Homo sapiens: one gene and its partners. The protein of the gene in region 4 purifies or fractionates together with the protein of the main gene of each other region. This does not show direct contact. Each region holds a gene or a part of one and is shown on either strand. Other genes may lie near its edges.

Evidence for each region.
Region 1: the proteins of FGF1 (region 4) and GTF2IRD1 purify together in Homo sapiens (affinity purification with mass spectrometry; one large-scale study listed by BioGRID and IntAct). This does not show direct contact.
Region 2: the proteins of FGF1 (region 4) and SDC2 purify together in Homo sapiens (affinity purification with mass spectrometry; 2 studies listed by BioGRID and IntAct, with this or other methods). This does not show direct contact.
Region 3: the proteins of FGF1 (region 4) and KLHL7 purify together in Homo sapiens (affinity purification with mass spectrometry; one large-scale study listed by BioGRID and IntAct). This does not show direct contact.
Region 5: the proteins of FGF1 (region 4) and HMG20A purify together in Homo sapiens (affinity purification with mass spectrometry; 3 studies listed by BioGRID and IntAct, with this or other methods). This does not show direct contact.
Region 6: the proteins of FGF1 (region 4) and CD44 purify together in Homo sapiens (co-immunoprecipitation; one large-scale study listed by IntAct). This does not show direct contact.
Region 7: the proteins of FGF1 (region 4) and HSPG2 purify together in Homo sapiens (affinity purification with mass spectrometry; one large-scale study listed by BioGRID and IntAct). This does not show direct contact.

What each region holds. Positions count from the first base shown.
Region 1 is NC_000007.14:74,558,406-74,561,905, reverse strand, and holds part of GTF2IRD1 (general transcription factor II-I repeat domain-containing protein 1), read right to left. Parts: intron 3,046-3,500; coding exon 2,862-3,045; intron 2,280-2,861; coding exon 2,251-2,279; intron 1-2,250. UniProt on the Homo sapiens protein: May be a transcription regulator involved in cell-cycle progression and skeletal muscle differentiation. May repress GTF2I transcriptional functions, by preventing its nuclear residency, or by inhibiting its transcriptional activation.
Region 2 is NC_000008.11:96,500,313-96,503,812, forward strand, and holds part of SDC2 (syndecan-2 precursor), read left to right. Parts: intron 1-3,500. UniProt on the Homo sapiens protein: Cell surface proteoglycan which regulates dendritic arbor morphogenesis.
Region 3 is NC_000007.14:23,168,285-23,171,784, forward strand, and holds part of KLHL7 (kelch-like protein 7), read left to right. Parts: intron 1-3,500. UniProt on the Homo sapiens protein: Substrate-specific adapter of a BCR (BTB-CUL3-RBX1) E3 ubiquitin ligase complex. The BCR(KLHL7) complex acts by mediating ubiquitination and subsequent degradation of substrate proteins. Probably mediates 'Lys-48'-linked ubiquitination.
Region 4 is NC_000005.10:142,595,591-142,599,090, reverse strand, and holds part of FGF1 (fibroblast growth factor 1 isoform 1 precursor), read left to right. Parts: intron 1-3,500. UniProt on the Homo sapiens protein: Plays an important role in the regulation of cell survival, cell division, angiogenesis, cell differentiation and cell migration. Functions as a potent mitogen in vitro. Acts as a ligand for FGFR1 and integrins.
Region 5 is NC_000015.10:77,469,388-77,472,887, reverse strand, and holds part of HMG20A (high mobility group protein 20A), read right to left. Parts: intron 1,979-3,500; coding exon 1,846-1,978; intron 1,106-1,845; coding exon 1,074-1,105; intron 1-1,073. UniProt on the Homo sapiens protein: Plays a role in neuronal differentiation as chromatin-associated protein. Acts as inhibitor of HMG20B. Overcomes the repressive effects of the neuronal silencer REST and induces the activation of neuronal-specific genes.
Region 6 is NC_000011.10:35,198,171-35,201,670, reverse strand, and holds part of CD44 (CD44 antigen isoform 1 precursor), read right to left. Parts: coding exon 3,425-3,500; intron 1,026-3,424; coding exon of another isoform or gene 754-1,025; exon of another isoform or gene 590-753; coding exon 476-589; exon of another isoform or gene 4-475; coding exon of another isoform or gene 1-3. UniProt on the Homo sapiens protein: Cell-surface receptor that plays a role in cell-cell interactions, cell adhesion and migration, helping them to sense and respond to changes in the tissue microenvironment.
Region 7 is NC_000001.11:21,850,311-21,853,810, reverse strand, and holds part of HSPG2 (basement membrane-specific heparan sulfate proteoglycan core protein isoform b precursor), read left to right. Parts: intron 1-740; coding exon 741-892; intron 893-978; coding exon 979-1,111; intron 1,112-1,577; coding exon 1,578-1,723; intron 1,724-1,884; coding exon 1,885-2,020; intron 2,021-2,113; coding exon 2,114-2,265; intron 2,266-3,312; coding exon 3,313-3,448; intron 3,449-3,500. UniProt on the Homo sapiens protein: Integral component of basement membranes. Component of the glomerular basement membrane (GBM), responsible for the fixed negative electrostatic membrane charge, and which provides a barrier which is both size- and charge-selective.

The DNA of each region.
Region 1 (3,500 bases), on a different chromosome or scaffold from region 4:
ACTCACACCGAGCCTCAGTCTCCCCCTCTGTAAGGTGGGCTCTAGCGTCAACCTCCTAGCTATGAAGACTAAATGAGATGCCTCCTCTGTCTGCACTCTGCTGTAACCCTAGTTCCTCTAGAATACCACCTTGTCCCAGCAGGACCTCCCAAAATATGTGTGAAAGGCACCCGCATAAAGCACCAGTGCAGGGCCAGAAACCCAGTGACCTCTCAGCCGGGTGTCCACTGGAGCCACACTCACTGCACTGTGCTGCTGCAGCTTCCACTCTCTCCACCTTTCCAACATCATCTGACCACTCTGCCCCTCCGAGAGCTCCGGAAACACACTTCTGGCATCCAGTGACCCCCCAACCCCTGCCGTTCACCCCGCCAAACCCACCCTCCTCTCTGCCTCTCAAAGTCCCATCTTCCCCTGAGGCCCAAGCAGGGCCATCCTTACTCCAGGAAACCCTCTCCAACTACCCCTCACCCTCCTGATCCCCCTTCTGGGGGTTCCCGTGGCCTGTCAGCAGCCGCCACATCACTGTACCCTAAGTTCTTTTTTTTTTTTTTTTTTTGAGACAATCTAGTCCCGTCGCCCAAGGTGGAGTGCAGTCGCGCGATCTCGGCTCACTGCAACCTCTGCCTCCCGGGTTCAAGTGATTCTCCTGCCTCAGCCTCCCAAGTAGCTGGGATTACAGGTGTGCGCCACCACACCTGGCTAATTTTGGGATTTTAAATAGACATGGGGTTTCACCATGTTGGTCAGGCTGATCTCGAACTCCTGACCTCAAGTGATCCTCCTGCCTTGGCTTCCCAAAGTGCTGGGATTACAGGTGTGAGCCACCGTGCCTGGCCCGCCCTGGAGGCTCTGGCCAGCCCTTAGTGCTTGCCAAGTGGCATGTCGCCCCGCAGGGACAGCCCCTGCAAATCTGGGTTTGGGATCACCCTGCAGGGACAGCCCCTGCAAATCTGGGTTTGGGAGGCCAGGACACAGTCCATGGTGGAGACAGAAGTGGATGGGTGCCTTAAAAAGGGTCAGGAGGTCGGGTGTGGTGGCTCATGCCTGTAATCCCAGCACTTTGGGAGGCTGAGGCAGGAGGATCACTTGAGGCCAGGAGTTTGAGACCAGCCTAGCCAATATGGTGAAACCCAGCTCTACTAAAAACACAAAAATTAGCCGGGCATGGTGGTGCCCACCTATAATCCCAGCTACTTGGTAGGCTGAGGCAGAATAGCTTGAACCTGGGAGGTGGAGTTTGCAGTGAGCAGAGATAGTGCCATTGCATTCCAGCCTGGGCAACAAAGTGAGACTTGGTCTGTCTCTGTCTCTCTCTCTCTCTATATAATATTTTTTATTATATATATAATATTTTTAATTATATATAATATTTTAATTATATAAATATTTTTAATTATATATAATATTTTTATTATATATATTTTTTATTATGTATATATTTTATTATATATATAAAATATTTTTTTAAAAAGGGTCAGGAGAGGCACTGCACTGTTTAAGGCAGGGTAGGCGCCACCCACATCTTACCAACATGCTTGTGGTCCCCATGCAGACACCCCTCCTTCTGCGGTTAGGAACCCACTCACCTCCAACCTCGCCTATTCACTGAGGTCAACCAGAGCCCCTTTATCAGGAGGAGCAGGTGCACTGACTCGGCCTGGCCCCTCCCTCCTGAACCCAGACTGGGTAAAACTTAGAAGTCACTGACGCCACCACCCCTTTCTCTGTCCCAGGATCTGGGGCCACATTCAAGCTTAGTCTTCCTCCATCTACCTGGGGCAGGAGCCCAGGTAAGGTGGCTAAACAGAAGGGCAGAGGCCTAGGCCGGGCGCAGTGGCTCACGCCTGTAATCCCAACGCTTTGGGAGGCCGAGGTGGGTGGATCACTTGAGGTCAGGAGTTTGAGACCAGCCCTGGCCAACATGGTGAAACCCCGTCTCTACCAAAAATACAAAAAATAGCCAGGTATGGTGACAATTGCCTGTAATCCCAGCTACTCAGGAGTCTGAGGCAGGAGAATTGCTTGAATCCAGGAGGTGGAGGTTGCAGTGAACCGAGATGAAGCCACTGCACTCCAGCCTGGGTGACAGAGAAGGACTCTGCCTCAGAAAAAAAAAAAAGAAAGGCAGGGGCCTGGCTTCTGTTCCCAGACCCCAGAACCTGTGCCCCACAGCAGGCTTAGCTCCAGTCCCCAGCACCACGATCGGGCCCTATTCCCAGTGCCCCCTCCACAGCCAGTGCCTCTTACCAGGCTTTGGGATGAGTCCTTGGAAAGGCCTAGAAGAGAAACAGAGGCAGGGGTGTCATGGGGAGGGCCTGGGGGATGAGGAAGACACCCCTGGGATTCAGTGGCCTCGGTCTCCCCTGGGAGCACCCCAGACCTACAGCAGCAGAATCTGCATTTTAACAAGCTGCCCTGGGGCTCTGTGTGTGCGGGACACTGAGACAATGTGGCAGGGTGCTGGCATTGGCAGTGTCACTCTGCAGGACGCAGACCTGGGCCTTGTGCAGGCTTTGCCCTGGCTGGCCCCGGGACCTTGGGCAAATCCCTCTGATGGGGGCTGAATACCTTTCCCGGGGGCTGGGGGTGCAGTGAGCGGGTGTTGCTGAACAGGTTGAAGATGCCCTCAAAGGCTGCCCTTGCCATGGGGGGGTGACCAGTCCCACTTCTGAAGGGCTCCCTTCACTTGGGCTGGCCTGCAGTCCCTCTCCAACCACCCCCAGGACCCAGGATGGTGCCAGGAGAGCCACCTTGTCCAGGGGGGAGGGCAGGACCTAGGGAAAGGCTAAGGATTCGCAGGTGCAAGCTCCCATCTGAGCTAGTCCTGCCTCTTCACCCTCACCCTTCCCACTGAGTACCTGGTGACTGTGAACTTGATCTTGTCAGCCACAGCAAGAATCCTCTCCAGGTTCTGGGAGCCGAAGGTACAGGGCTTTCGGAACGGGATTCCTGGGGGCAGCCCCTCGATGATCACGGAGCCGGGGTTACTCTTGATCCGCTTGTAGGGGACCTGGACCGGGTACTTGATGCCCAAGGCTTCCCCTGTGGGCGAGAGGCAGGGTCCTGCCCGTCAGGAGTGAGAGGCAGCGTGGGGTGTGTGTACATGGGATTGCGGGGATGTGATGGAAAGACATGCGTGCAGGAGAGTGAATGGTACGAGAAAGCTCTTATGTAGTGTAGCACTGTGGAAAGGTATAGGCATTACAATCTGAGCTGTTTGATCAGAACATAAAAAAAAGGCCAGCATGGTGGCTTATGCCCGTAATCCCAGCATTTTGGGGAACCAAGGCAGGAGGATCTCTTAAGTCTAAGAGTTCGAGATCAGCCTGGGCAACACAGCAAGACCCTGTCTTTACTAAAAATTTCTAAAAACTAGTTGGGCATGGTAGTGCCCAGTGGGGTGTAGTTCCAGCCACTTGGGAGGCTGAGGCAGGAGGATTGCTTGAGCCCAGGAGTTTGAGGCTGTAGTGAACCATGATCACGCCACTGTACTCCAG
Region 2 (3,500 bases), on a different chromosome or scaffold from region 4:
AGTGAGTATATTTTGGGGATCTGGGGGCAGAAAAGGGATTATTTTTATTTTTTAAGTGTGGAAATGTGGCCTGGCGCGATATCTCATGCCTGTAATCCCAGCACTTTGGGAGGCCGAGGTGGGCCAATCACCTGAGGTCAGGAATTCGAGACCAGCCTGGCCAACATGGTGAAACCCCGTCTCTACTAAAAATATAAAAATTAGCCGGGCGTGGTGATGGGCACCTATAATCCCAGCTACTTGGGAGGCTGAGGCAGGAGAATTGCTTGAACACAGGAGACGGAGGTTGCAATGAGCCGAGATCATGCCATGGCACTGCAGCCTGGGCGACAGAGTGAGACTCCATCTCAAAAAAAAAAAAAAAAAAAAGAGTGGAAATGCATTAAATTTCTTCTTTTAGCCATTGGGCTTTAGGTCTTACTATTAAAAATCTCAACTGCATTTTGATAAGTCTGTTTCTAGGCAGCATTAGCTTTAGCAACAAGGATGGAGGGGTGAATGCCTCTGAATGGGAGAGGACACTGTTGAAATAGAATTGTGAATGTCTGTTTTTCTCAAGTATCTCAAAGAATTGGTAGGAGTGGGAGAAGAGAGAAGCCTTGAAATCTTTGGAGATTTTCCATTTGCATTTCACATCAGCAGAGTGAAGCCAATGAGTATGCAGCTGGTGGCGTGATAGCCAATGCATAGTCTTGGAAAAATGGAAAAATGTTATTAAAGACATGTTTTCACAGTTTTTTTCTCTACTATTCAGTCTATTTTGTGAAAAATGTCACAAAGACTCAGTAAGTATGCTCTCTACAAAGCATTTTGGTGTTTTTTTTTATGATTACACAGGTATATTAAATACAAGTAACCGTGATGTTTAAGGAGTGTGTGCAATTAATAGAATTTAGTCTCATGGTATAAGAATGACACACGGGACAAGATACGCAATTATTAAAGGAAAATTTTTTTTAAGGGAAAAGTTAAATACGTATTTCTTTTTTTTTTTTTTTTTTTTTTTTTTTTTGAGACAGAGTCTCACTCCGTCGCCCAGGCTGGAGTGCAGTGGCATAAATGAGGCTCACTGCAACCTCCTCCCCCCGTTCAAGTGAATCTCCTGCCTCAACCTCCCGAGTAGCTGGGATTACAGTGCACACCACCACGCCTGGCTATTCTTTTTTTGTATTTTTAGTAGAGACGGGATTTCACCATGTTGGCCAGGCTGGTCTTGAACTCTTGACCTCAACTGATCCGCCTGCCTCAGCCTCCCAAAGTGCTGGGATTGCAGACGTGAGCCACTGCAACCAGCTGAGTTAAGTATGTATTTATGTGTAATTTGTTATTAAATATAAATACAGTAGACTAAATATACAACATTTTAAGTCAAGGCAAAAGCAAGGTTTTATACACATGTAATTAACTGTCTTAATCCCTGTGAGACCTCAGTTTTCTCATCTCTAAAATGATGGAGTTGAACGAGAAAAACTCTCTCTCCTTAATATTTACTTTTTCTGCACTTTAGGGTGTGGTAGGAGAAATGTGAAGATTAACTTAATAAGTAATTATTAATCCCCTGTCAAATACTTCTAATTTTATTATTGAAACATGGAATTTATTCACCTTACAGAAAGGCAAGTAATTTCTAATAGCTCATGGTAACCTGTTACCTTGAACTGAGTGTTCATTGTTTACTAGGAGTGGTATACATTGTCCTGCGTATTCGTGATCTAATGTCTATTTGTATTAGTCTGTTCTCACTCTGCTAATAAAGACATACCCAAGACTAGGTAATTTATAAAGGAAAGATGTTTGATGGACTCACAGTTCCACATGGCTGGGGAGACCTCACAATCATGGTGGAAGGCAAAGGAGAAGCAAAGGCACGTCCTACATGGTGGCAGGCAAGAGAGCTTGTACAGGGGAACTCCCATTTATGAAACCACCAGATCTTGTGAGACTTACTACCACAAGAAAAGTATAGGGGAAACCGCCCCCATGTTTCAGTTATCTCCACCTGGCCCCGCCCTTGAAATATGGGGATTATTACAGTTCAAGGTGAGATTTGGGTGAACACACAGCCAAACCATATCACTAGTATTTTTTTATATATTTTCTGATACAAGCCAGTGTAACATAAAGAACAGCTGCGTGGTAAAAATAACTTTCATTCTAGATAGAAGACTACATGACTTGATATACTGGGGGTCTTTTTAAACTATAAATCTCATAAAGTGTTTTAGTCTCCTCATATGGTTTCTGGCCTGGATCTCCATTTCCAGAGTGGGGCTTTTAACTGGTGCCTTCCGTTTGGTCCCTCTCTAGAGCACTTGAGCCTGGTCTGAGTACTGTGCAGACCACAAGCAAGAATCTAAATGAGCAGACTATGGTAGTGTTGCCTGGGTTTGGATACACTTATTATGTAACCTTGGGCAAGTTTTTTAACCTTCTGGGCTCAGTTTTCTCATCTGTAAAACTGAATATCCTAAAATAAGTTTTTAGGATTATGTGAGACACAATAAGTAGGGACTTTTTAGCATAAGGGAATGTCCATGCGTTGTGTCACATGCTAGTTATAATTCCTGGCTTTCTGCTTCTCTGAAGAATAAGGGCTTGGCACACACATTAGTTGGGCTCATCTGATAAGCTCTAGCCCAGAGGGTGGCTCAGCATATGCATGCTAAGGCCTACTTTTTCATAACAGGGGCTTTCTTCTTGTCTTGGGGTAGACTAGTTCTACGCTGAGATATTGGGAATATGTTTGTAGTCAGCTTTTCTCTAAAAGTGGATGATGTGAGAAAATATGCCATTTATTATTTCTGGCTGATGAAAGGTTCCTTACAGGGACAGGACAAATCCGTGTTAAGATGTGAAAAGCTCATCTTTCCCAGTAATTTTACCTCCACAAATCTGTCCAAAGGAAATCATTACCAGGTAAATAGTATTTAATGTCTTTGTTGAAGTCTCTTACTTATAATAGTTAAAAAAATGGAAACAACCCAAGTGTACAATAATAGAGTAATTGTTAAATAAGATTCTAATTTAGACACTGAATATCATGTGGCCATTAAAGATTTATTTGAAGGGTATTTATAACTTAGAAACTATAGTACACAAAAAGTTAGATATAAACCTATGTATAGTGAGACCTTGGTTATATTTTAAAAGGTGTGTGTGTGTATAAAGATAATGTATATATACAAATCCATACATGTCATAGAACTGTGTAGATACACATACACAAACATACACAGCATGAATACAGGTAAAACTAGGAAAATCAGAATAAGATTGGTAGATTGTATCAATATCAATATCATTGTTGTGATGTTTACTGTAGTTTTATAAATGTTACCATTGGCGGAAACTAGGAAGGGGCACAAGAGATCTTTGTATTATTTCTTACACTGTGTGTGAGTCTATAGTTATCTCAACAAAAATTTCAATCAAAAAATGGCACCAGAGCTAGATTGTTGTTTAAGTAAGTTCTGCTGATCCTTCAGAGAAAGATATGTTAT
Region 3 (3,500 bases), on a different chromosome or scaffold from region 4:
TGAATGAGACACATCTGATTGATTCGTCAACTCATAAAATGTTTTTGTTTGAGCGGTCAGGAAATGTAGAGGAGGAGGGGGGAGTTTATGACCAGCAATAAATTTATCCTTAAGTAGAAATATTAGATATTGGCTCATGGCATTAATAAATCATGCCTCCCTAGTTCTTTTTAGGTGTAAACTTCCTAAGTACATTTAGATTCATGTTTATTAAATAAAATTATTCTTAAATCAACTGCTTTTAAAAAGGCAAAGTGTGTCAAAAAGGTAAAATGCTAAAGAAATAACTGGTTAGCCAGTTTTTCTGACCTTGTAGTTAATGATGGAACACATTCAATGTAGCCAAAGGAAATGTGCTAATCATTGAATAATGGAGAGGGCATGAGGGCACGGGTTGTGAGTAGTGACATTAAAGCTGATGAGGACATAAAACAGATGATACCCTAGTCGTACCTTTTATGGAAACATCCAAAGAGCTTTGATAAGAAAAGTCACTTGATCATATGGCTGGATTGCCCATCGTTCTTCCCTTACTAGAACAAGTTACTGGGTGAATACGTTCACTAAAATGCTATGCCAGAGTTGCATCAAAACTCTCGTGCTTAAAGTTTTATATTTAGGAAATATTGCCAAACTACAAAACATGGAAGTCTTCAACTCCAGCTACTGCTTTTTTTAAAATTAAGAAATAAGATGCCAGGCATGGTGGCTCATGCCTATAATTCCAGCACTTTGGGAGGCTGAGGCAGGCAGATCACTTGAGGTCAGGAGTATGAGATCAGCCTGGCCAACATGGCAAAATCCCGTCTCTACTAAAAATACAAAAACTAGCTGGGTGTTGTGGCGCGTGCCTGTAATCCACTACTGGGGAGGCTGAAGCAGGAAAATTGCTTGAACCTGGGAGGCGGAGGTTGCAGTGAGCCAAGATTGTGCCACAGCACTCCGGCCTGGGTGACAGAGCAAGACTCCATCTCAAAAAAAAATAAAAAATAAAAAAATAAGAGCTTAATTATAAAATATGATTAATTATGTGCATTTATCTATGATTCCCACATATTTTTAAAAGATTTAAGGAAGCATAATCAATAACTTCTTTCCAGTGCAAATAATAGAAAAGCAAGTTGTCTTGAAATTTGTCTTTTGCTAAAGATGTTTACCAACTTTGCTCCCTTTTATGTGAACCTCTACCTTACTTCCCATAAACCCTAGGCTCAAAAAGTGTTACAGCATACTAGTTGGAAAACTGATTCATTCTGCTAATTATTTTTTATTTCTAAAAAATCTCTTAAAAGAGAAGCCATAACCATAAAAACTCTAGGTTTCTAAATTTTTACATCTTTATTCAGGCACTATCAATGTAAATTAATATTGATTTTTTACTTACTTTTTTGTTCAAAGTAAAAATATAAAGGAGTTCTGCAGCTTCTGTATTTTTTAAAACTAGGTGAATATTCAGTTTCAGGAATATTTAAAAACTTACAAGACCTAGCATTTCTTTCATTTTATATATATTGAGCTTAAATTTGAATTCTCTATGTTCCCTTCAATGCCCTTAAATTTTCACAAATGAAAAGCTAGTGTGAATATAATTATCCAACTCTCAAAATAAATGTTATATTATTTCCTTTTAAAAATGTTACCTAGTCCAGGTGTGGTGGTTCATACCTGTAATCCCAGCACTTTGGGAGGCCGAGGCTGGTGGATCGTCTAAGGTCAGGAGTTCGAGACCAGCCTGACCAACATGGTGAAACTCTGTCTCGTCTAAAAATACCAAAAAAAATTAGCCGGGCGTGGTGGCGCGTGCCTGTAATCCCAGCTATTCAGGAGGCTGAGGCAGGAGAATCATTTGAACCCGGGAGGTGGAGGTTGTAGTGAGCTGAGATCGTGCCATTGCACTGCAGCCAGGGCAACAAGAGCGAAACTCTGTCTCAAAAACAAAAACAAAAATAAAAACAAAAAGTTATCTAGCCAGCCAAGTTTTTTTTAATAAGAATTTCTTCCCAATTTTGACATTTTAAGTGTTTGATAATTAGAATGTGTTTAATTGGAAGCTGAAAAACTAAGCCTATGGACCATAGAAACACAAATAACACATGTTGTCACTCATGTGGGAGCTAAAAATGTTGATCTCATGGAGGTAGAGAGTAGAATGATGGTTATCAGAGGTTGGTTAACAAGTACAGAAATACAGTTAGATAGGATAAGTTCTAATATTCAGTAGTACAGTAGGGAGACTATAGTTAACAATAATTTATTGTATATTTCAAAATAGCTAGAGAAGAATTGGAATGTTCCCAACACAAAGAAAAGATATTCCTCAGCAGCAACATGGGAGGCCTGGGTTCCTTCCCTAGCCCAAAAAGAAACAAAAGGAAAGATAAATGTTTCAGGTGCTGGATATCCCAGTTACTCTGACTTGATCATTACACATTGTATACATGTGTCAAAATATCACAGGTACCATAAAAATATGTACATGTATTATGTATCACATTTTTAAAATCAGTTTTAAAAAAGATGGAGAGGAGCAGAAGCTCATAATAAAGTAACTGAAGAAAGAAAGAAATTATGTCTATGGAAACAATGTGACACAGTTTGAGCGGTCAGAATTTTAAGAAATGACTTTTTTTTTTTTTTTTTGTGAGACGGAGTCTCACTCTGTCACCATGCTGGAATGCAGTGGCACGATCTCAGCTCACTGCAACTTCTGCCTCCCAGGTTCAAGCGATTCTCCTGCCTCAGCCTCCTGAGTAGCTGGGATTACAGGCGCACGCCACCACACGGGCTAATTTTTGTATTTTCAGTAGAGACGGGGTTTCACCATGTTGGCCAGGATGGCCTCCATCTCTTGACCTTGTGATCTGCCCACCTTGGCCTCCCAAAGTGCTGGGATTACAGGCGAAAAAACGCTTCTAAACATTAAACTTCAGATTGCAGATAGCGGGGACCTAGTATGTACTCTGCATGTGAATTATAGGAGGAAGGGGAATTTGTGAAAGTTTTTTCTAAACCTTCAGGAGATTTAGATATACATAAAGACATGCTGTCTTTTTATATCATTAACATTATATTTGGAGAAGAAAGTGGTATGTAAATGGAATTTTTCCAAGTCAAATACTGTGTTTTAATGCATGATGATAGCTGAGTCTATAAATCTCACTACGTGCAGGGCAGTGAAGACCTAGTTTTTACTGCTGTCCCACTTCCGAGCTGTATGCCGGTCACTTCACCTGGATGAGCGTGTGTGTTTTTCCTAAAAACAGGAGCCATGCTGTCCACCTCACCTTAACAGAGAACTTTGAAAATGAGAGTGGTGACTGTCAAACCATTTTTAAAACAATACATAAATGTAAGACAAAAGAATTGTTAATACTTCAGAGTTAATCATTGTGCCTTAATTATGTTTTATAAAGTTGAATTCATCAAATTGTTTTTTGTTTTTTGAGACGGCGTCTGCCTCTGTCGCCCAGGCTGCAGTGCAGTGGCGTGATCTCAGCTCA
Region 4 (3,500 bases):
ACCGCCTCACACAGAGCGTACATGGGTTCAGTGGTGCAACACACAGAATGCGCCCATCAGAGTGGCTGGCACGTCACAGACCAGTGGTGGCTGTAAGACAAGTCATCAGCTTAGAAGCCCCTCACCCTCACTGTGTCTTAGGTTATGCCACAGTTTTATGGCTTTTCCCTCTTTAAATAAATTTTGACGTTTATTGTAACCTGCTTTCACTTATATAAAAATATTGAGGGAGAACTCCCAGAATCTAATTTCCGATAGGCTCCAGGCACCCCCTTCTCCCACCATAGCCGTGGCCATCACTACAATTCACCTGAAATATGATCTTAGTATATTACGCCTAAGAATGTTTGCATTTTCCCCATTGATAAAGAGAAGTTCTAAGATATCTCAAAGCTCTGCTTCATGCTCTTCATAAAATTTAGGCACTAATCCATCCTGATTCAAACTTGTGTGTGTGGAAAGGATATGTATATTTTTTTTAAGTTTGAAAGGCTATATATCAAAATACTGATATAGTTATCTCTGGGGGTGGAGAATGGGTGATTTTATAATATGTGAATAACTTCCTGTATTTTCCAATTTTTTTTTTACAGTAAGTATATGTCACCTATGTAATTTAGGGTGGGAGGGGAAACATGCCAAATATAAAAAAGAAGACAATTTAAACAATAGACATGAATCAATAGTTAAGCCACATGTCTTCAGCATTGTACCAAGTGCATAATGAGTGCTAACAAATCCTGGTGGAGGGACGGAGCACCGCTGATCTGGCCTGCTGACTCAGCCTGTGACTCAGCTATTTTGTGTGTGTCAACTCCTCCAGTATAATAGAGACATCAGGTGGGGAATGTGGCCATCCTCACCTTCGTCACAGAACACAGGCCTGATGCCCACTATGAGGTGTCAGGCATGAGTCCTCCCTACAAGGGAGTGGGCAACCCACATAGGTCCAAGCTGTCTACCTCCTTCTACCCCCAACAACATGCATCAAACACGAATGTCTGCACCAAGTTCCTCTAGAGGCAGCAGAGTCATCCAATAAAATATTATATTTATATCTCATCTTGTTCCAATATGATCTAAAGTGTCTCACCCTGTTGTCATTTCACTAGATTATGAATGAATAAGAAGCAGGATACTTCCTGTTACACAGTTCCTTACTAAGAAAGGCTGACTTTACTGACTGCTTTATATTATCTCAAGAATCAAATTAAATGCATTACTTAGCTGGTGAGCACCTATTATTTGCAAGGCTCTGTGTCTGGGGGATGGAGAGAAGACCAACAAGATTCCATCTCCTTCCTCACTAGGGTTTATAATCTAAAGAAACAAACATGCTCACACATAGAGAACAATGAACAATATAATTGGAAACCGCCAGACAGGGAATCACCAACCACTGTGGGTGAAGAGAGACTGCAGGGGTCACACGACTTGAAAAAGGCAAAGCAAAGTCAGATGTCTCAGTTCCAGCATAAGTGTTTTAATATACCTGTTTTAGACCCAAATGTAATAAATATATTCTAAGATCTTGACGAATAGAAAGTTCAAAAACTGAGTTCCCCTTCCACCAACAGATTGACTACAAGTAAGCAAAATAGTGGTTGCTGGATTTTTTTCAAGTAACTGCACTCTTTAATACGTTGTGGCTGATTTTCAACTTAATAAATGTACAGCTGCACTGGGTTCTACTGTACGGATATTCTTTTACCCACTTAACCAATCACCTTTCCATGGACATATAGGTTACTCCTAATCGCTTGCCCCTATAACCATTGGTTCAGAGACCATCCTCAAAAATACAGTTGTACACTTACTCAACCATCTCCTAGGGGTAGATTCCTAGAAGTGAAATTGCTGAGTCAAAGGTAATACATCTTGTAAATTTTGATACATATTGCTAAATTGTCTTCAGAAAGTTTCCACTAATTTTTCTCGCCAACTGTGCATGGCAGTGCCTAGTTCCCACATTCTAAGTCTTGCAAATGGTTTTTTATCTTTGCACAAATTTTTTTTTATCTTTGCACATAGGATAGCTAACATATGATAAATAATTTTTAATTTGCATTTTTCTCGTTAGCAGTATTGAATGTTTTCATAGGTTTGTTGTTCATTTTTAAAACATCAAATAAAACATGACATTTTGATGATATCATAAGTCTATATCCATATAGCCTTATCTAGTCTGTATGTACATAAAGAGATGTAAGGCAGGATGTTTATCAGTGATTAACAGTTGCCTATATCTGGGTGGTGGGTTTTGGGATAGTTTTTTCTTTTTACAAAGTAAAGGTATATTTTTAAAAGTACAATTCTTCTTATAAGTAGCATTTTTATTACTCTTTAGAGACAGGTTCTTGCTCTGTCACCCAGACTAGAGTGCAGTGGTACAATCATAGCTCACTACAGCCTCAAACTCCTGGGGTCGAGCAATCCTCCTACCTCAGCCTCCTAAGTAGCTAGGAGGACAGGCACACACCATGGCACCTAGCTAATTAAAAAAAAAAAATTGTAGAGAATGGGTCTTGCTATGTTGCCCAGACTGGCCTCAAATTCCTGGGCTCAAGCAATCCTCCTGCCTCAGCCTCCCAAAGTGTTGTAATTACAGGCACACACCATGGCACCTAGCTAATTAAAAAAAAAAAAATTGTAGAGAATGGGTCTTGCTATGTTGCCCAGACTGGCCTCAAATTCCTGGGCTCAAGCAATCCTCCTGCCTCAGCCTCCCAAAGTGTTGTGATTACAGGCACACACCATGGCACCTAGCTAATTAAAAAAAAAATTGTAGAGAATGGGTCTTGCTATGTTGCCCAGACTGGCCTCAAACTCCTGGGCTCAAGCAATCCTCCTGCCTCAGCCTCCCAAAGTGTTGTGATTACAGGCATGAGCCACTGTGCCTGACCACAAGTAGCATCTATTTATAAGATTCTTTTTATAAGTAGCAAAAAATAAAGCTATTTTCATTTTAAAAAATCTACATTCTAGGATATGTTTCATGCTTAGGATAAATTTTGCACAAGCATATCTTCATAACAATACTCAGGTAAAATCCTGACGTTAGTGAAAATCACCAGGATAAAAGGCATTTTAGCAGCTTTTTGTTTATTCTTTAAGTCTAGCCTTCAAGTTAAAACAACAGCAACAACAACAACCCACTACATCACAGTCTGGTTTTTACCTATTTGGAATGTTTTTCCATGGTCAGGCCTGTGTGCCAGGCCACTACAGAGATGAAAGATCCAGCCCTGCCCTCAAGGTACTTACAGTCGAGCAGAATGTCCCCAGTGGGAGATTCTAGAGTCCTGAGGACTCTTAGAAGTGCTCTTATCAGTAGCATCTTAATTACTTTACAATGGATTTTAAATGGAAAGGAAGTTTACAATAATAGCAAATGCATATTGACAGCTCTTTAGTGCCCGGTGCTGTTCTAAGTCCTTATGACTACCCTGTGAAATAAGTTCCACCATGACCCCAATTTTCCTGAAAAGGAGACTGAGGCA
Region 5 (3,500 bases), on a different chromosome or scaffold from region 4:
ATGTCCACAAAGACATTACAACCAAAGAGTGTGAGCCCTTGAATTACCTCAAAACCCCTAGGTCAGATCAGCTAAGCACATAACACAAGTATAGAGAGCCATGAGGGTTAAAGGAAGTTAGAGGAAACAAGAAAAGTTTGAAGGAGAAAACAGAATTTGAAACAACACACACACCTAAATCCCATACACACACAGAAACACAGGCCTAAATCCTAACAATGGGGCTGAACCAAGTGGGAGGAAAGAAGCCAGTACACAAACATGTGCTAGTGAAGTGAGGGAATAGGAAAGGAGGTGTGAGAACTGAGATACTGGGCCGGGCGTGGTGGCTCACGCCTGTAATCCCAGCATTTTGGGAGGCCAAGGCGGGTGGATCATGAGGTCAGGAGATCGAGACCATCCTGGCTCATATGATGAAACCCTGTCTCTACTAAAAATACAGAAAATTAGCCGGGTATGATGGCACGAGCCTGTAGTCCCAGCTACTCGGGAGGCTGAGGCAGGAGAATTGCTTGAACCCGGGAGGCGGAGGTTGCAGTGGGCTGAGATTGTGCCACTGCACTCCAGCCTGGGCGACAGAGTGAGACTCTATCTCAAAAAAACAAAAAACAAAACAAAACAAAAAACAAACCTGAGATACTGTCGCTTGTGCTCTATCGACATTGTAGTTGAACAGTTCGCTTTAAGCAAATGCTGGATTCTTTAAATAACAACTTTTCTGAGAGTCAGATTTAAGTATTTGGTGATGATAAACTATGGTCATGTTATAGCTTTCAGCTAGCCCTCATTTCTATACTTCATTCCAAATTCCAGCCATCTTTGGCATTTAAAGCCAATAAAATTCTCAGATCACAGGAAAGGATTGAGGTTAGGGGCTGTAGTTCAATGACAGACACACAACGTAAGTGTCTGCCATATGCTAAGAACCCCCAAGCTAAAGTATCTCATTTAATCTGAATTACGAGATAGGAAATACTTTGCCATTCATTAAAAAAAAAAAAATCCAATAGCATTTCAAAAAGCAACATTATTATAAATACATATATATGATATGTAGACAGATGGCTAATTACCTCATGATCATGAGTGGCCTGCCGGGCTGCATCTAAAAATATAAAAGAATAAGAGAACATTACATTTAAAAAGAAAGCAATAACAAAACCCAAGTATACGACTCTGCCAAACTATAAAACCTGCTTGTATATGTAGATTCTCATAACATATGATATTTTTCCTTAAGGCTTTATTAATCGGTCAGCCAACAAAAGTAAGGGAACCCCATGCCTACAGAATTCATAATTAGGCATAAGAGAAACAGCAGACACAGTTCTTAACTTTAGGGAGAAAAGGGTGGAAGAGTGGACAGAAGACACAAACCAAAGACTACTTATACAACATCTATAATTTTAGCAGGCTAGATGCCCAAGTATAGAGAAGATGCAATGGCTAAGGAAAAATAGGCTAGTTGTGGATGGTGCTTCAAAAATGACACATGAAAGGCTTAGAAGTGTTAAAGGGAAGTTACTGATATAATTTTGTAGATAGGCTTGCTTACAGGCAGAGAAATGCCTAAACTGGGAATCAGGAAAAGAAGGGCAGGCAACTAACAGGGGTCTCGGAGGACAAGTCAAAATCATTGATAATAGACACGGAAACCCAGTTGAAATTTCTAAATGAGAGCAATGTGATTTTAATAAAATTTCAAGATAATGCTTGTAAGTGAATACTGGATAGTGGAGAAAAAACAGAAACACATCTTTTATAGTTACCACTCTTAACAGTTGGCTTTATGACACTCCATCACCCACAACAAACTACAAATACATTTGGTTCTGGTTTTGATACCTTGCCTATGAGATTTGCCTTTCTGACGGTCCTGGGTTTTCCTACTGAAGACCTTGTAGGCCTCTGTTTTCTGATACTGTTCCAGTTCCTTCATGTAACGCTCCTTATCTCTGTCTGCTTCATCAAGGTAGCGCTAGGAAAGAAATACAGAATTATTTTCAAGAAAATGAGATCCTATTTAAATAAAATTAAATTACCTATTTGAAGAAAACAGGACAATTAGAACATGGGAAGAAAAGAATATAGGGAATATGCCTTAAAAAAGAATCAGAAAAACAAGAGTTGTATGAATAGAATAAAATATAACCTCTCAATTATAAAAGTAAATAGGTCATTATGAGTTTTTAGAATATTTATTGCCTTTTCTAACCTAATGAAGACAAGTTCTATTGAGATCATTCTTATAAAAAATTCATGAAGATGATTAGAGTTATTCTTCTAACTCTATAGATAGAACTCTATATGGCCACTAGAGTCATCCTCATGAGATGTGCACACCACATAGGCACACTTAGTCTTCCCAAGGGAAGGAACAGAATATTACTTTGTTTTGCTGTCTCCAGCCCATTTTGAGGGGATGATGTCATACATCAATTGGCCCTTTAAGAGCCAGGAGGTTGGAGCAATGAAGCTGGGAGACACAAAGAACATAAAAATAATGACCTCATCCTATGGACCTAAAAATGGACTACTCTGAGAGAACCTATATCTACATGCTTTGATTGCTTTGTGCTATTAATTATTTAAACAAAGTTCATTGATCTACCAGGATTATTTTGTTTAATGCTTTGCCCTTTTCATTCATCAAAATGAAGTATAAGAAAGTATAAAAATACTGCTTCTAAATGAACAGAAAACACACTCAGAAATTATGTTAAACACTTTGTCCCGCGTAAGAGCCAGATGTAGGGGATACTCAACTGGCCAAATCTGGTACAATTTAAGCACCAAAATAATTAAGTACAGTAATAAATTATAAACTAGTAGAAAAAACTTCATACTATTATTAGTATGATTTATAACAGACACAATACCAATGATTTGTTACCATACAAATACAATAAATGGGTGTAGAGGCTGAGCGTGGTGGCTCACGCACGTAATCCCAACATTTTGGGAGACCGAGGTGGGTGGATCACTTGAGGTCAGGAGTTCAAGACCACACTGGTCAACATGCTGAAACCCCATCTCTACTAAAAATACAAAAATTAGCTGGGTGTGATGGTGCACGCCTGTAGTCCCAGCTACTTGGGAAGCTGAGGCTAGAGAATCGCTTGAACCTGGGAGGTGGAGGTTGCAATGAGCCGAGAGTGTGCCACCGCACTCCAGTTTGGGCGACAGAGCAAGATTCCATCTCAAAAAACAAACAAACAAACAAACAAACAAATAAATAAATGGGGGTAGGGGGTCGGGCATGGTGGCTCATATCTGTAATCACAGGATGTTGGGAGGCCAAGGCAAGAGGAGGACTGCTTGAGCCCAGATGTTTGAGTCCAGCCTAGGCAACAAAGTGAGATCCCATCTCTACAAAACATAAAATAATTAGCCAGTTTTGGTGGTGTGTGCTACTTAGGAGGCTAAGGTGGGAGGGGTGCTTGAGACCAGGAGGTCAAGGTTGCAGTAAGCCAAGATCTTGCTTAGATTAGAATGCTGAA
Region 6 (3,500 bases), on a different chromosome or scaffold from region 4:
CTGCTGTGATGATGGTTAAATACACTGTGACTTGTTATCAACCAATCTTTAATGATTCTATTCTTCCATTAAAGTGCATGCTATTTAACAATTCTATGCCAAAGTGTTACCTCTGAGCATCCACTCTCAAAAATTTTGAGTGACTTTACCTAATTGGTCTCAAGAGAAAATCAATGGGCTTGGAATTTCTTCATGTTCCCTTATTATTCCACTATGATCAGTTTGTCAAAGGCAGAACCACAAACCATTCAAACATATTCATTTTTATCATGAAGCAACATAAAAAATCCTGTGCCCACATGGTATAATTGATAAATGACTCCTAAATGGAATTAAGTATCCTCATAAAAGTCCACTAAGAATTTCTTGATCAGATATTAACTAAATTTCCCACTGTGCCTCGATGATTGACCTTTGCAGCATCATGGGCTTTGAGGGGAAAAAAATCTTTCATTAAATATGCAGAACCCATTACCAGTCATCCTTGTGGTTGTCTGAAGTAGCACTTCCGGATTTGAATGGCTTGGGTTCCACTGGGTCCAGTCCTGGTTCTGTTTTGTGTGGTCAAAAGCCCGTGGTGTGGTTGAAACTGTGATAACGATGATTGAAGCAATTAGAAAAATGTTATTTCTTGAGCCTTCGCCACTTGTCCCGCACATAGTCTTGCTTCTGTAGGCTATGCAATGAATCATCTATACCAGGTTGTATAGATGGCTGCATGGAAATGGAGGGAAAGCGGAGGGTGACTTCAGCTTAATTCAGCCATATTGGTAAGCATCTCAGTGTCCTTTGCATTCTGTCATAGAATACCTTGGGGTTCAGAACATGAGATCTTCCAGATAAAACAGTCAAAGAAGCTGCAGCAGTAGGAAGGACAGCTTTGAAAACACCAGCCCTCCACCGAGGATAACCAAAGGCGCCATTTTGCCCATCCATGCAGTCTGTAGTATCCCTCTGCACTTGAAAGCCCAGGGACTTAGTCACTGTGTGCTGTTTGTAGATCCTCCGGGTGAAGAGGCAGATAACTGAAAGTTATACCATGATAATCACTTTATGTTGTTAGTAATTTCAGTGGGGAAAGGAATGCCTGAGCAGCTAGAGCTTTCCTATAGATGATTCTGAAAAAGAATACCTAGAATAGCCATATGTTTTAGCGATACATTTCTGAATATTTATCAAACACTATGGTATTCTCATCAAATACAAAATATGTCATGAGCAAGCCATTCATAGCCAGTGAAAGAAAATAAGACACCACAGGTAACCAGCCACCATCATAGCAGCACACTGGAAAGAAAGAGGCGTACATCCACCAGCACCCTGATATTGTCACCCAATCTGTTAGGGCTGGAATAAGAGATGCACCTAACAGAAGGATCATGACAAAATCTGAGTCAACATGTTTTGTGAAAGGTTATTTGCAAATCCATCCTAATTGTTTCAAACTTTATTTTGATACCCAAATAACGCAAAACTGTTTTCAGAACTATAATACTGTCAGCTCTATTTTACAAGTTATGAAAAATCAAGTTTAGAATCATTAACCACATTCTCAATAGGCCTGAAAAAGTGCTTATTATCAAGCAGTTATCACACCCCTCCAGAAGAAAGAGGGCATCATGTTGAATTATGTCCATAGGTGCTAAGCAGAAAAGAAAAAAAAAGAAAAGCAGAAATTGGAAAAATATGCCATAGAGATTTAAAAAATTAAAAAAAAAAAAAAAAAAAAAAAAAAACAACACCATGGGAAATTTTTCCCTGAAGCCTGACCATACAATTCATTTACAGGTAGATCTGTTTGGGTTACCACCCAAGGGAATTTAATTTCTTCAGTATCAAGACCACGTATTTACTGATGGGCCCATCTGCAAAGCTGGGCCACATGCTGAACACAGGAGACAGTATAATGTAAAACTCCAGTGTTTTTGATTATTTGGTTTTTGTTCTGAAGTTACCAAAAGGAATTTTCTTATTCCATAGATTAAGCTCTGGAGGGGTGTCGGGTCTAAAAAAAAAATCACTTAAAAGTTTAGATAGAAAATTCTAGTTCCTTTTGAGTATTTGTCATATCAATGTTATATACTCAGATGCCTTCAAGGCCTAAGCTATTTTTTTTTCTGGACCCTTTCTTCTCTGTCCATTTGAGGATGAAATTCTCAGATTTTAATGGAATGGATAGAACTTCAGTGAATTGGGAGAGCTCACACAGCACCCCAAAAGCCTTTTTTCTAAGGAAAAGCAGAACTGTGATGGAGTCAGGTTCAGGATTCTCAGCTCTGTTCAGCAAAATCTTAAGTCATTACAGGTATGTGTGGAAAACTCAGTAATCTGGCAGAATATTAGACCAACCTTTGCATGTTTTTAACTTTTTAAGGATATCTTTAAAGCTCAATTTCCATCTCTTTGTTCTCAAAAAGTTTTATAATTGTCAAAAATTTGGATACTATTATGTACCAATAGTGGTTTCATTATTTGCTTTTAATAAGTGGCAATGTCTTGCTAAAGCTAACCTGACATTTGCCCTTCCCTTCAAGGTCTTTCTGCTATATTGGTGTCCAGCTCATTTGTTAAAACTCTGGATTTGTTCCTTTGACCTCAGCTGGGCTTTGATTAACTAAGATAATTCTTGAGTTCTAGCTCCCATCATTTAAGCCTTTAGGGCCTTCAATTTAGGAACTTCCACAACTTTTTTTTTTTTTTTTTGAGATGGAGTCTGGCTCTGTCACCCAGGTTAGAGTGCTGGAGTGCAGTGGCGCGATCTCCTCCTGGGTTCACACCATTCTCCTGCCTCAGCCTCCCGAATAGCTAGGACTACAGGCACCCGCCACTACGCCTGGTTAATTTTTTGTATTTTTTAGTAGAGATGGGGTTTCACTGTGTTAGCCAGGATGGTCTCGATCTCCTGACCTCGTCATCTGCCCGCCTCGGCCTCCCAGGGTGCTGGGATTACAGGTGTGAGCCACCACGCCTGGCCTACAACTTTTAATTAATACCCTCCTCATCACATTCTTCAAGTCTATTGCTCCAACAGACCATGAGCTTCTGAAAAGCAAAGGCTCTGGCTCTTTTCATCTTCGTGTTTCCAGCACCTAGCACAGTAAGTACACAATGTACATTTTTTGTACTGTTTTAATGTCATTCTCTGATAAAGCCTGATCATTCAAAGACAATCTGTAGCAGTAGATCCCATAGATAAATAAAACAGGAAGAACATGAGACAAGAGAAATTTTGTGAGATATTTTCCCCACTTCTCAAAACATTCTATTTCTTCTTCCATAATCTCATCAAGATATAACTAAGGTATGATCATAGGTTCACCCATTTTTCACATTAACTACTTCTCAAGAGAGATACAATTTGGTATCACTCAGATTAATCAATAAGCCTTGCATAAATGGCTGTACTGTAATTGATTATTCTTACTGGTGCTGGAGATAAAATCTTCATCATCATCAATGCCTGATCCAGAAAAACTGAGGTGTCTGTCTCTTTCATCTTC
Region 7 (3,500 bases), on a different chromosome or scaffold from region 4:
GTGGTTTTTTTATTATTTTATTTTATTTTATTTTATTTTATTTTATTTTATTTTATTTTTTTGAGAGAGAGTCTCGCTCTGTCACCCAGGCTGGAGTGCAGTGGCGCGTGATCTCGGCTCACTGCAAGCTCCGCCTTCCGGGTTCACACCATTCTCCTGCCTCAGCCTTCTGAGTAGCTAGGACTACAGGCACACCCGCCACCAGGCCGGCTAATTTTTTGTATTTTTTTTAGTAGAGACGGGGTTTCACCGTGTTAGCCAGGATGGTCTCGATCTCCTGACCTCGTGATCCGACCGTCTCAGCCTCCCAAAGTGCTGGGATTATAGGCATGAGCCACCGCGCCTGGCCAGTCATGGTGTGGTTTAAATGAGACAGTGTCTATGGAAAGTACTTGTGAGCACACGGAAGACGTCCTGTAGAAGGGAGGTGTCTCACTGTCATCCGCATCCTTGGGCGCAGCCTGGGTAGTAAAGCTTGCTGGTTCCCTATGGGCCAGAGGAGCTCATCATCAAGAAGTCATGGGTGGGTCAATGGGCCTCCAGCTTGTGGTTAGAGGCTGGGGAGGGAAGAAGCCATATTCGGCTGGCCATGTGGAGGCAGAAGGGTGTGGCCCTAGTCCCAGAAAGGCCACCTGTCGGCCGTCCCCACTAGGGCCTGGTCACAGCCCAGAGCCTTCTGCCCCAGGGCTACAGGTTACAGCCCAAGAGTTCAGGCCTCTGAGCAGCCGCTCTGTGTCCAGTGCCCGGCAGCACCCGGCCCATCCGCATCGAGCCCTCCTCCTCACACGTGGCGGAAGGGCAGACCCTGGATCTGAACTGCGTGGTGCCCGGGCAGGCCCACGCCCAGGTCACGTGGCACAAGCGTGGGGGCAGCCTCCCTGCCCGGCACCAGGTATGGCAGCCCCCCGGGACCACCTTGCTGGAGGGGCTGGATGGGACTGTTCCAGCCCCCTCCCAACCCACCCCATTTGCACACAGACCCACGGCTCGCTGCTGCGGCTGCACCAGGTGACCCCGGCCGACTCAGGCGAGTATGTGTGCCATGTGGTGGGCACCTCCGGCCCCCTAGAGGCCTCAGTCCTGGTCACCATCGAAGCCTCTGTCATCCCTGGTGAGTGACTCCCAGTGACATGGAAAGCTGGAGGAGGCAGAGAGGCCTCCGGGGTGGTGAGATCCAAGGGACCCCTCTTGCTGACAGGGCAGAAGGCCCACACCGGAGCTGGCTGCAGGGCCCTGCCCAGGCCGACTCCACCTGTCAGAGTAACCACCGCCTTCCCGTCACACTTTGCTTTGGCCACATGACTCCTCAGGCGTCCCCTCCCACCTCCTCTTCCTCTCTCCAACTCATCTCTGCCCTCATCTCTCTCACTTCCTCACTCCCCTCTGCAAGGCGTGGCCCATGCCCTGGTCCTCCCATCAGGGTTGCTGAGCTGAGGGCATCAAGTCCAGGCCCCCAGATGCCTGAAAAGCTGGATCTGGCCTTGAAACCCTGGGCTGAGCTAGCTGCAGGGTGGGCAACCCCTGCCCTCTCATCTCAGGAGCATCTACAACTCTCACTCCCATCCCCACTGCTGCAGGACCCATCCCACCTGTCAGGATCGAGTCTTCATCCTCCACAGTGGCCGAGGGCCAGACCCTGGATCTGAGCTGCGTGGTGGCAGGGCAGGCCCACGCCCAGGTCACATGGTACAAGCGTGGGGGCAGCCTCCCTGCCCGGCACCAGGTACAGGGCACCAAGAATGTGGGACGGGGCCATGGACAGTGGGTTGCAGGATCCTGGCCCCTAGGCTGAGGGGCTGGCACTTCCTAGATCGGGGGGACAGCGGTGGGGCATTTGCTGGCCTCCGGGAAGCCCCCCTCACACCTCTGCCCACGGCTGCCCAGGTTCGTGGCTCCCGCCTGTACATCTTCCAGGCCTCACCTGCCGATGCGGGACAGTACGTCTGCCGGGCCAGCAACGGCATGGAGGCCTCCATCACGGTCACAGTAACTGGGACCCAGGGGGCCAACTTAGCCTACCGTGAGTGGGGCCACCAGGCTGGGCTGGGATGCAGAGAACAGGCTGGAGTGGCTTCAGAGAACAGGAGTGACCGGTGACCATCTTATCCCTCAGCTGCCGGCAGCACCCAGCCCATCCGCATCGAGCCCTCCTCCTCGCAAGTGGCGGAAGGGCAGACCCTGGATCTGAACTGCGTGGTGCCCGGGCAGTCCCATGCCCAGGTCACGTGGCACAAGCGTGGGGGCAGCCTCCCTGTCCGGCACCAGGTATGGGACTGGAGGACAGACAGGCCAAGAAGAGGAAGCGGGTCCCTGGGTGGCGGAGGTTATTGGGGGAGGGCTAGAGGCTCCCCTGAGATCAGGAAGCCCTGGACCCCATTGCACAGATGTATAGTGCAGTGGTTAGAAACCAGAATCTAGGACTGACTAACCTGGGTGTGAATTCTGGCTCCACCACTTAGCTTGTGACCTCGGACAAGTTACTTAACCTCTCTGTGCTATAGTTTCAGGGCCTATAAAATGGTAACAATGGTACGTACCAGCCGGGCACGGTGGCTTACGCCTGTAATCCCAGCACTTTGGGAGGCCGAGGTGGGCGAATCGCCTGAGGTCGGGAGTTCGAGACCAGCCTGGCCAGTATGGTGAAACCCCATCTCTATTAAAAATATAAAAATTAGCCGGGCATAGTGGCAGGCGCCTGTAATCCCAGCTACTCGGGAAGCTGAGGCAGGAGAATCGCTTGAACCCAGGAGGCGGAGGCTGCAGTGAGCCAAGATCACGCCATTGCACTCCAGCCTGGGCAACAGAGCGAGACTCAGTCTCAAAAAAAAAAAAAAAAGTACCTCACAGAATTATCTTAAAGATTAAAATATATGCAAAATCCTCAGAGCTTAGGCTCACAGAAAGTACTCTAAGCTGTTAATATTTTACTATAATGCCATTAGCTATTGTTGTTACCATATTTTGTAGAATTTAGGATACCACTGATTGCGAGATCCGCTATGATTTTATGTACCTCTAAGAAAAAGCTTCTATTTGTAAGGTTATTCATTGTAGATGCATCTTGATTTTGGAGACATCGAAATGTGTGTCTAGAATTGATGGGATGTGGTGTGAGTGTGTACCCAGCTCACTGGGGCTCCTCTGGTCTACCACCCCGCTGCTGGACAAGAGTCCCCCTTCCCCATGTGAAGGACAGGGAAACTGATCCAGAGCTGATGGCCAGGCCTTGGGGGTCAGAGTGAGGCAGGGTTGCAGGTTATAGGAACAGGGGTCTCCTGAGGGCTCCCTCTGACTCACCCCCATTCTGGCCAGACCCACGGCTCCCTGCTGAGACTCTACCAAGCGTCCCCCGCCGACTCGGGCGAGTACGTGTGCCGAGTGTTGGGCAGCTCCGTGCCTCTAGAGGCCTCTGTCCTGGTCACCATTGAGCCTGCGGGCTCAGTGCCTGGTGAGTAGCTCTCAGGGAGGGCAGGGCTGGGGACCCAGGGTGGGAGGCCCCC